3 linked regions of the Homo sapiens genome follow. The protein of the gene in region 1 interacts with the protein of each later gene in a pairwise test. Each region holds a gene or a part of one and is shown in the gene's direction. Other genes may lie near its edges. The genes, in order: SLC35H1, PEX16 and TVP23B.

Region 1 (3,600 bases):
CCCAATGGTGAAGATTTCACCTTGACAAGACTTGATCTCCATGTATCTGGGAGACTCTGGAGAGCTCCAGCTGGAGCCCTTAGTCACCTTCCAAGAGTCCCTTCCTCCTCATCATTCGCTCCTCCCACACATACACACACACAGACACACACCTGCTGGTTAAGAGTGTTCACAGATTGCTGCACTGGGACGAAGCGTTTTCTGCTCAACCCTGCTGGGTACAGCAAGGTAAGGCATACTGTACACCCCCATGAACACATCCTCCCTCTTCTCCCTGCCAGGGACACAGCCAGGGAACAGCTCGAGTACTTGTGCCTTACAAAGAAGACACGCTCTTTACCCTGTGTGTTGCCTGTGCATAGTGCCCAGCCTTCCAGCTGGTGTTTTAGGCTGTTGCTCCAAACCTTGGCCTTGGTAGCTGGGAGACTTAAATGAGGGTGGTGATGAAAATAGATCTCTTGCCTCTGAGAGAGAAGGGTGTGAGGACAGGCTCTTTCAAAAGGCATAGAAAGTGCATGCAATACAAGCCTGAGGACTGAATAAAGCCAAGACCTTGGGCAGTGATGGGTACCATTGTAGGTGCTTGGTAAGCACTGAATGAACTAATGCCTGCATGATGCCAGCTGGCGGCGGTGACAGCCGCAGTTTGCATAAAACACTGCTTACACTCTGGCCTTGAGCCTTCTGTTCAGAGGGGCCAGGGATCCCAGCTGAGTCACTTGTAAGGATCCATGTTTGCAGCTGGTCTTACTGCCAGAGAGCCCAGGAGGAGGCTAGAGGAGGGCGAAAGGCACAAAACTGGGTCTGAATGTGCAACCCTAGCTTGCCCTGGCCTAATGTTCTTGACTGCAAATGCTGCCCTTTTAATCCATCCCGCAAGATGAAGAAAATCTGAACTCCCTAGGCTGGCATTTTGGGGCCACTGCAACCTGCCTCTTGGCTACTTTAACCACCACAGTTACAAACAACCTGTGAGCCCCAGGCACGGCTGGAGCTTTCTCACCCTCCTTTAGGATTCTCCCATTTCCTCTATCTGGGATGCTCTCTCCCTACTCAACCTATTGAAGTTGAGATAATTCTTAGAAAGTTTCATACAGAAAATATTTCACAAATGTTTCGTATTACTTCTGGATCGCCCAAGTTTTAAGTTGTAATGGCCCCAGCTGGCCTGAGCTCCCAGAAGAAAAAGCCCATGAGATACTTATCTTCGTGGTTCATTCCATGGTTGCCCAGCATTAGACTGGACATAAGAAAAACAATTTGTTCAGTAAAAGTAAACAAGTTACCATTTTTTGGATGCTCACTGTATGCAGAACACTAGCAGGCACCGGGGTTCCAAAGCAAGCCCCTGATTGAGCGCGGGAGAGACGCAGACAATTACACGGCTGTGCTCTGAGCCTGAGGGACTTCGCGGAGGACAAAACTACGCTGTACCTCAGAAAGACCAGACCACCTCAGAACCCGACCACAACAGACGCCCCGCCCCCGTGCTGCCCCGCCCCGCCTTTTCGCCCCGGCTCCGCCCAGCCCCTGGGTAGCTTCCGGCGGAAGTTACCGCCCGTGCCGCGGTTCGGCGGCGGCATCCGGCCTCGCACTTCCGGTGGGGAGATTCCGGCCTGGAGCTCCCAGGGCCGAGGTGAGTGGGTGTGCGGCCGGCCTCCCGGCGCACTCCCAGAGGCTGGGGGGCCGGGGCTGGAGAAGGGAAGCGGGCTCCCCACCCGGGATCTGCGCGGGTTGACATGGGGCACGCCACGCCCCTGCCCCTCCCCGGGCCTCAGTTTCGCCGTCTGTGGAGGGGGCAGGGGTCTCCAAGCGCCCTCCTGCAAGGCACCTGCCGGACGCCGGCTCATCTGGTATTTCCTGAGCACCTGCGACGTCCTGGGTGCGGGACCCGGGCCGGAATCGGACACGGCCCTGCCCTCTGAGGGGCTGCTTCCCGCGGTGGGATTGGGGCGGGCAGTAAACACGTGAGCAAACAAGGAAACGTCAGAGGTGGGAGTGCCACGAGGATTGGGAGGGGTGGGGCATTGGAGAAAGTATTCAGCCAAGCGGAGGTCTGCGGAAGGGAGCTGAAGGCAGGAAGAGCAGCAAGTAAAGAAAAACACAGGTTTGATGTGTTTGACACGTGGCAGGGGGCCGCTGTGGCGGGTGCTGGGACCAGTGGCAGAAGAATGAGGTTACAGAGGCCTTCCTTGTGGACCAGGCTGAGGAGCTGGGCTTAGCCTTAGGGCATGATCTGTTTCGTGTGCCATCTCTCTGGCTGCTTTATAGATTCCAGGCCTTAGGGGCGAAAGAGGAAACAGGGAGACCAGTTAGACCAGTGGCAGTCAGCAGGTGAAAGATAATTGTGGCTTAGACTGTGGTAGTGGGAATGGAGAGGAAGAGAAGTAGAGGGGTCAAGAAGTGTATTGAAAGTGGAACTGACAGGGCAGGATTTGAGAAATGACAGAAATAAGTGGTCAAAGATGACTTCATCATAGATTTTTGGTTTTGGCTTAAGTAACCAAGTGTATTATGCTGGCATTTACTAAATGACTTTGGGATAGATTGGGAGCGTGAGAAATAATTACGAAATCTTCTTAGGGCATCTTAAGTTTTAGATATTTGGAGTGCAGCTACCAAATAGGCAGTTAGATATATGAGTCTGATACAGAAAAGGTCAGGGCTGATGTAAAGAATTTAGAAATCATTGGCAAGTGGATTGGGTAGGATGAGATTATGTAGGGTAAGATTTAAGAGAGAAGAGAAGCCAGGTTCCAAGCTTTAGGCACCCAATTTTTATAGATTGAGTTGACAAGAAGGTGCCAGCAAAAAAGACCAATAAGGAGTCCAGAAAAGCAGAAGAAAAACCAGGAGAATGTGGTATCGTGGCACCCAAGAGAAGGTTTTTTCTAGGAGGAGGAAGTGATCCATTGTGTAAGGTAAGAATAGAGACTAAGCCGGCCCGGCACGGTGGCTCACGCCTGTAATCCCAGAACTTTGGGAGGCCAAGGCGGGCAGATCACCTGAGGCCGGGAGTTCGAGACCAGCCTGACCAACATGGAGAAACCCTGTCTCCACTAAAAATACAAAATTAGCCGGGCATGGTGGCACATGCCTGTATTCCCAGCTCCTCGGGAGCCTGAGGCGGGAGAATCACTTGAACCCGTGAGGCGGAGTTTGCGGTGAGCCGAGATCACGCCATTGCACTCCAGCCTTGAAACTCCATCTCAAAACAACAACAACAACAAAAAGAATAGAGACTAAGCCTTCGAAGGGGCAGCAGGGAGGAGGGTGTGGTGACTCATTGGAGCAGTGGAGATGGGCTGAAGTGAGAGCAGGGGGTGAAGGAGTTGGACTGGCAGTGCGGGGTCCTCTGGGGAAGTTTCACTGTTAAGGGGACCAGGAGGGGAGTAAGCCTCTACCATGAGCCAGCATTTAATGCTGTACCTGATGCCACTTTACAGTTGGAGAAACTGAGTCCAGAGGTCAAGTAACTTAGGGTCACACAGTAGTGAGTAGGGACACCAGGATTTGATTCTCAGTGTCTAACTCCAAAGCCCACACTCTTAAGCACTAAACCATGCTGCCCAAGTTACAGTTAGGAAGATGGAGGGAAGC
Region 2 (3,820 bases), on another chromosome or scaffold:
GGGTTCCGGGAGGCTGGCTCTGGCCACAGCTATGCTGAGCTTTCCCCAGGCTAGGGAGGGCTGCAGAGTGCTTTCCTCTGTGGACGGGTCTTGTGCTGAGCCGCCACCCTGCTTGTAGTTCCCTTGACTCAGCTGTTGCCATAGTACAAGCTCATCTGTTCTCCCCTTAGCTCCTGAGCATTCACTGCACACGTTCTTTGCAGGCTCCGCTGGAAGCATGTCCCTCTGACTGTATGGCCTTCTGTCTATCCCTGCTAGATGGTGACCACAGCCCTGGCAACCATGAGCAGTCCTACGTGGGGAAGCGGTCAAACCGGGTGGTGCGAACCCTCCAGAACAGTAAGTGGAGGATGTGGCTGGCCTGGGCACCTAGGTGCTGTCTGCCTGGGCTTGAGGGACTGGCTTTGGTCAGCAGCCACCTTCCCCTGCCCCAGCCTGGGCCTGGCTCGCTCATCTGCCGCCCTTGTGTTCTAGCGCCGTCCCTGCACTCCAGGCACTGGGGAGCTCCCCAGCAGCGGGAGGGACGGCAGCAGCAGCATCACGAGGAGCTGAGTGCGACCCCCACCCCCCTGGGGCTGCAGGAGACCATCGCAGAGTTTTTGTACATTGCCCGGCCGCTGCTGCACTGTATCCTTAGCGCGGGGCAGGATAGGGCTGGCACTGTGGGCTGGGGATTGAGTGGGGAGTGTGCTGAGCAAGGCCCCTGTGCTGGAGACATCCTTGACGCCTTGGCCGTCAGTGCTCAGCCTGGGCCTGTGGGGTCAGAGGTCGTGGAAACCCTGGCTCTTGGCTGGTGTTGTGGACGTGACCAGGTGAGCCTGGGCCTGCCTGGGGCTTCACTCTCCACTGGGCTTTCTGCTATAATCCTGGCCTCACATAGGCGGGGTGGCAGCGGCCCCTGCTCCTCCTGTTGCTGCCCCTCTGGACACCCAGCCCATGGCTCCTCCCCTTCCGTGGGCCTAGATCATGCCCCTGGCCCTGACCATGTCCTCCCTGCCTCCCAGCCTGAGCCTCCTGAGTGACAGAAAGGGCCTGACCCGGAGGGAGCGGCGGGAGCTGCGGCGCCGGACCATCCTGCTGCTCTACTACCTGCTGCGCTCTCCTTTCTATGACCGCTTCTCCGAGTAAGCACCCAGGACACCCTGAGCCAGGGAGAGGGCTGGCAAGCGGGCACTGGTGCTCCGGTCCCTGCTGGCGCCTTCCCTTCCCCACGCCTCATCCAGGGTTCACCAAGCACTGTGTGTTGTCCGGGTGGCAGTCACCAGATGCCAGCCCAGTCCCGCCCGCAGAGCTCTCTGGGCCATCAGGCCACTTGAGCAGGAACTTAAACATTGGTTGGCAGGAGAGGCACTGAGGGCAGGGCTGAGGGCATTGCCAGGTGGCCCACAGGGATGGCGACAGGGCGGGCGCCCATGGCCTCTAGCTCATTTCCACTTCTTCCTGCCAAATAGTTTGGCTTATCCTCACTTCTCAGAGGAGGACCTGGAGGTTCAAGGAGGTTGGGCAACTTAAAGACACCCAGCTAGCCAGTGGTAGAGCTAGATCCCAAACCCAGGATCTCCCCTGGCCTTCCCTGCCTGGCCCAGCCCCCACTCAGTCACCTGCGAGGGTCCAGAGCTCCCAGCCTGAGAGAGGCCTGCTGGGTTGAGCAGGGGGCAGCTTGGGACTAGTTCTTCCACAGGCCTGCCACTATGACTGCTTGAGGTTAGACCACAGTCTGACAGGGGGAAACCCTGTGCAGTGGCTGGGACTGTGAGGCAGACAAGGCTCCCGGGACCCCCTTTGTCTAGGACCTAATAATAGCTTAAAAACTGGCATAGGCTGGGCAGCAGTGGCTCACACCTATAATCCTAGCACTTTAGGAGGCCAAGGCAGGAGGTTGGCTTGAGGCCAGGAGTTCGAGACCAGCCTGGGCAACCCAATTCTACAAAAAAAAAAAAAAAATAATAATAATTAGCCAGACATGGTGGTGTGCGCCTGTAAGTCCTAGCTACTCAGGAAGCTGAGGCATGAGGATCAGGCCAGGAGGCTGAGGCTGCAGTGAGTTATGATCACTCCATCCCACTCTAGCCTGGGTGACAGAGTAAGTCCCTGTCTCAAAAAAACAAAACAGAAAAAAAAAAACAAAACTGGCATAGTTTAGCCAGGCACGATGCCTCACACCTGTAATCCCAACACTTTGGGAGGCCGAGGCGGGCGGATCACAAGGTCGGGAGGTAGAGACCATCCTGGCTAACATGGTGAAACCCTGTCTTTACTAAAAATACAAAAATTAGCCAGGTGTGATGGCACACGCCTGTAGTCCCAGCTATTCAGGAGGCTGAGGCAGGAGAATCGCTTGAACCCAGGAGGCAGAGGTTGCAGTGAGTCGAGATCGCGCGACTGCACTCCAGTCTGGGTGACAGAGCGAGACACTGTCTTTTTTTGTTTGTTTGTTTTTGAGATGGAGTCTGGCTCTGTTGCCTGCCTAGGCTGGAGTGTAGTGGTGCAATCTTGGCTCACTGCAAGCTCTGCCTCCCGGGTTCATGCCATTCTCCTGTCTCAACTCCTGAGTAGCTGGGACTATAGGCGCCCATTACCATGCCTGGCTAATTTTTTTTGATTTTTTAGTAGAGATGGGGTTTCACCGTGTTAACCAGGATGGTCTCGATCTCCTGACCTCGTGATCCGCCTGCCTCGGCCTCCCAAAGTTCTGGGATTACAGGCGTGAGCCACCGCGCCTGGCCTGACCCATCTTTTTTTTAAAACAGAAAAAAGAGTAAGGCTGCTCCTTCTGGACCACACCCTGGCACCTCTCTGGACCCTGCTCCCTGTCCTTTAGGGAAACAAAGGCCCGCCTTGGCCTCCTAAAGTGCTGGGATTATAGGTGGAGCCACTGCACCCAGCCAGCCTTCTTCTTTTCTTTTCTTTTGTTTTTTGGGACGGAGTTTCACTCACGTTGCCCAGGCTGGAGTGCAATGGCGTGATCTCGGCTCACCGCAACCTCTGCCTCCCGGGTTCAAGCAATTCTCCTGCCTCAGCTTCCCAAGTAGCTGGGATTACAGGTGCGCGCCACCACGCCCGGCTAATTTTGTATTTTTTAGTAGAGATGGGGTTTCTCCATGTTGGTCAGGCTCGTCTCGAACTCCTGACCACAATTGATCTGCCCGCCTTGGCCTCCCAAAGCGCTGGGATTATAGGCATGAGCCACCACACCCGGCCCCCAGGCTTCCTCTTTTCTTGCTGCTCAGACAGACATATAAGGAGTCAGGCCGCCTTCCAGATGTGTAGCCTTGGGCAAGTTATTTGATGCGCCTGTGCCTCATTTCCTCACCTGTAAGATGGGGATGATGACAGTACCCACTTTGTAGGGGTTCAGTGACTAACGCGTACAGCAGTGCGTGGGGTGTAGTAAGCACGTAGCGCTATGTATTGTCATCAGCATCCTCATCTCACCCGAGTTCCCCTGTGGAAAACCCTCCTGTCTTAAAAATCAGGGCCTTGGGCCTTGCCCCTTCCCCTGAACCAAAATGTGCCCTCTTCAGTACTGTGTCCCCTACCAAGGTCCTGACTACTCTCATTGGTGGCTTGTGAGGTTTCCATGCAGCCCAGCACTTCTGCCAGACTGGGGGGCTTCCCGAGGGCAGGGTGGGGTTGTCCTCCCTGGACCCTCCACCATACTGCCAGGGCGCTGCTCCACATGCGACCCTCTAGAGGCCTTCAGTGTTGGATGTCGGTGGAAGGGGAAAGAGGAATGGGAGGAGGTGTTGTGGGTCAGCGGCCACCCCGAAGCTGAGCTGGTGGAGGGTGGAGGCCAGAGCCAACCCCAGAGGTCTTGCCC
Region 3 (3,820 bases), on another chromosome or scaffold:
GCATGCTAGCTCCACAAGTGGGCACAGCCACCCTGTCTCTTAAGAAAGAACGGCCTCGCATCTATACAGCCCTTGATCCTTTTAGAGTGAACACTGAGTTCGTGCTGTTGACCGTGAAGGAGGAGAAGGAGCACCAGGAAGCCAAGATGAAGGAATATCAGGCCAGGGAGTCCACTGGAGTGGTTGATCCAGGAAAAGTCAGCAAAGCTGCATGGATCAGGAAGATCAAAGGCCTGCCTATTGATAATTTCACGAAGCAAGGGAAAACAGCGGCCCCTGAACTTGGACAAAATGTATTTATCTAAACCAGCCTTGGGAAATTACAATGTTTTACAATAAACAGAAAGCCAAGCGGATGTTGCTATTTGGCCTTTTTTTTTTTTTTTTTGACTGTTTCTTCCTGGTAATTAATGTGGGAACTCCCAGTTATCTTCCTCTGAGCCAAATATTTGATATCATCAAAATAAGAAAACAGAAGGAGGTTGGGCGAGATTAGCATCTGTAGTCCCACTGAAAACAATTTAGTGAGCATTAGGAAAGCCCAGTTTCGTTGATGGGGGATGGGGAGATGATCACTGGAAATTAGATACCATTCATCACTACCAATTTAGTGCTATTAGTTCTTCTGGCAAATGAAGTTATGGGATTATATCAGGGTCATGCATTGGTGTTTTCTGGTATTTTTGCACAGAAGCCTGATAAAACCCATTAAGAATTTAAAAGGGGAAGCCCTCAGTGGGGTGGACCTGTTGCATTTGACAACATTGAGCTTTTCCTTCTCAGGGCTAACTCCTAAGGAAGAGAATTAGCATATTTATCCTCTGTACAAAGAGGGCCAGTAACATCAAGTGCATTGAGGTTTCTGCTTAAACCTTTGGACTATGGTGCAGGGACCAGGTAATTTAGAAGAGTGCAGCCCACTACAAGAGCTATGGCCCATTAGAAAGTTCAAGCCTTGACCAGGTGCGGTGGCTCACGCCTGTAGTCCCAGCACTTTGGGAGACTGAGGCGGGTGGCTCACCTGAGATCAGGAGTTTGATACCAGCCTGACCATCGTGGTGAAACCTCGTTTCTACTAAAAATACAAAATTAGCTTTAAAAATTAGCTATTAAAAATTAAAAGACGATAATGAATTCAAACACAATGTCTTAAAAAACCAAAAACTACGAAAAACAACACAAAACTCCACAGCACTGAGTGGACCACTGAAAACCTGCCATGGGCAGGCTGGACGTACAGGCCCCAAATTTGTTAGCTTTTCATCTCCAAGGGCACGAATGCAATTGTGCTGCCGAAATGTCTTGCCTTTAGAAACGCGTGTGTGTGTTTTCCCCCTTTCATTATTAGAATATCAGGTTTTAAATGGCACTGGCAATCAGCCACGTAAAATTTGTGATTTTAATAGAATCCCTTCAATTAAGGACACGTGCAAATACCACTATGCCAACAGCAGTCTGACTCGGCCAGACAGATAGGATATTGTCATCATCACCGCTTCAAAGATGACTTAACGCCCCTTAATTTCACATCCTTTGTTCAGGCAAGATCACAGCATGAGCGGCTGGACTTAAAACTGTAGTAAGTATAACGTCTCCCATTTACTAGATACTTACACTGTAAGGAAACCATTATCACCCCCACTTTACAACTGATGAAAGAAGTACATAAAGGTTGGTGATATGATTGGCAATAGAGTTCCCAGGCGCCTAAGCTCCAGGGCGCAAGGTCTCAACTCCTGGCGTCTAAGTTTATACCTCCCATAATAATACCGTCCATTAGTTACTCTAGAGTCCTCCTGCCTTGTTTTTCTTAACGTTTTACTTCTCTGCAAGAACATATTTTAAAAAGTTGCTTCTACAATTTAAAGTACAAAAGTAATACTGTACAGGAGTAAGTCTTTGTAAAATATTTAAAGAAAATTATATTATACAATAAAACCCCGCCCCCCTGCATTCGGGGCAGCGACACTGGGGGAACGACTTTAGAATTTGCATTGGGTGGACAGCAAATACTTCCGTAAAACAGACCATGAAGCTTTCCACTTAGAGCCCACTGTGGCCCCAATACCTTTCCCTTTCGCTCCTGCTCCAGGCTCCGCCTCCGCCGTGTCCGGGCCGCTCGCCCCGCCCCCGCTCGCCCCGCCCCTGGATTTGCTCCCTCAAAGCGGAAGTGAGGCCGGACTGAGGCTCTTACAGTGGTCCCTGCTGGCCCTTGGTGACGGGTCGCCTCAGTTCCGACCCGGACCCGTACGCTGCTGCGCTGACGTGGCTCCCGGAAGTAGGGCTGGCGTAGGGCCGCCATGTTGCAGCAGGTGAGGGGCTGAGGGCTCGCTGGGAGGGTGGCGGCTCCTGGGACTGGCTCTGCAGGTTCCGTGGGACTGGAGCCCGCGTCCCCCGCGCCCGCTACTCGAACTCGAGGAGGAGCGGGGCGGCCGGGAGTGGAGGGCTGTGGGTAGTTGTCTGAGGAGGGCTGCTGGGGGTTCTGAGGCCGCTGGGGGCGGCGTGACCCGTGCGGCGCAGAGCAAGTACTTCTTGCGGCTGTGGGGACGCCCATTGTTAACCAGCGCGAGTGGGGGTCTCTCTTTCCTCAACCCTTATTGCCGGGGTGGAGTTGAGGAGGAGCGGCCTGCGGGCCTCTTAGCTTCCTGACACCCAGGGGTGCGATGCTATTTTGTAGGAATCGGCGACACCGCCAGAGCCTCGCTTTCAAATTGCTGTTTCCAAACTAATGTTGTTGGTGATTCTCTCCTTTGTGCTCTTAGAGTTAATTGTAGTCCACATGTTGGCAACCAGAGACTCGTAAGATTAATAATATTTTTAGAAAAAACTACTGTTTATGGTCACTTAGATTGTCTTAAGTGTTTTTTTCTTTCGGTTCACACAAAATTTGTTGAGGGATTACTATGACTCAGACACGGTTGTAGGCCCAGGGATAGGGTTGTGACCAGTACAGACAGGTTTCTTGCCCCGTATTTTTGGGTTAGGGAAGTGGGTTCTAGGAGATGGGGGTTGGGTGGGGAGACACGATAAATTGTATAACCAAAGATATTTTCAGATAATTGCAAAGGCAGGGTGATGAAATAACAAGTGTCTGAGGATAGGACAACTAAGATTTATGGTCAGGAAAGACTGCTTATGAGGAGATGCCTTGAGTGGAGAAAATCTAATAATGGTTAAATTCAGCTGTATTACAGGAAAGGTGTCCCGATCCAGACCCGAAAAGAGGGTCCTTGGCCGGGCGTGGTGACTCAGGCCTGTAATCCCAGCACTTTGGGAGGACGAGGTGGGTGGATCATGAGGTCAAGAGATCGAGACCATCCTGGCCAACTTGGTGAAACCCTGTCTCTACTAAAAATACAAAAATTAGTTGGGCGTGATGGTGCACGCCTGTAGTCCCAGCTACTCGGGAGGCTGAGGCAGGAGAATCGCTTGAACTGGGGAGGCTGAGGTTGCAGTGAGCCGCGGGCCACTGCACTCCATCCAGCCTGGCTACAGAGGGAGACTCCGTCTCAAACAAAACAAAAAAAGTCTTGGATCAGGCAAGAAGGAATTCAGGGTGAGTCCACAGTGCAAAGTGAAAGCAAGTTTATTAAGAAAGTAAAGGAGTGGCTACTCCATAGAGCAACCTGGAGGGCTGCTGGTGGCCCATTTTTATGGGTATTTCTTAGTGGTATGGTTAACAAGGGGTGGATTATTCATTCCTCCCCTTTTAGATCATAGAGAGTAACTTCCTGATGTTGCCATGGCATTTGTAAACTGGCATGGCGCTGATGGGAGTCTAGTAGTGAGGACGACCAGTGGTCACTCTCGTGGCCATCTT

The links.
Region 2: the proteins of SLC35H1 (region 1) and PEX16 interact in binary tests that used the Homo sapiens proteins (3 or more experiments, as listed by UniProt).
Region 3: the proteins of SLC35H1 (region 1) and TVP23B interact in binary tests that used the Homo sapiens proteins (3 or more experiments, as listed by UniProt).

The regions. Positions count from the first base shown.
Region 1 is NC_000020.11:46,362,407-46,366,006, reverse strand, and holds the start of SLC35H1 (solute carrier family 35 member C2), read left to right. Parts: upstream 1-1,581; 5' UTR 1,582-1,636; intron 1,637-2,784; exon of another isoform or gene 2,785-2,921; intron 2,922-3,600.
Region 2 is NC_000011.10:45,911,123-45,914,942, reverse strand, and holds part of PEX16 (peroxisomal biogenesis factor 16), read left to right. Parts: intron 1-258; coding exon 259-339; intron 340-474; coding exon 475-627; intron 628-739; coding exon 740-812; intron 813-1,004; coding exon 1,005-1,124; intron 1,125-3,820. UniProt on the Homo sapiens protein: Required for peroxisome membrane biogenesis. May play a role in early stages of peroxisome assembly. Can recruit other peroxisomal proteins, such as PEX3 and PMP34, to de novo peroxisomes derived from the endoplasmic reticulum (ER).
Region 3 is NC_000017.11:18,778,994-18,782,813, forward strand, and holds the start of TVP23B (Golgi apparatus membrane protein TVP23 homolog B), read left to right. Parts: upstream 1-2,189; 5' UTR 2,190-2,300; coding exon 2,301-2,312; intron 2,313-2,320; exon of another isoform or gene 2,321-3,556; intron 3,557-3,820. Other genes in the region: FBXW10 (F-box/WD repeat-containing protein 10), read left to right, coding at 1-305.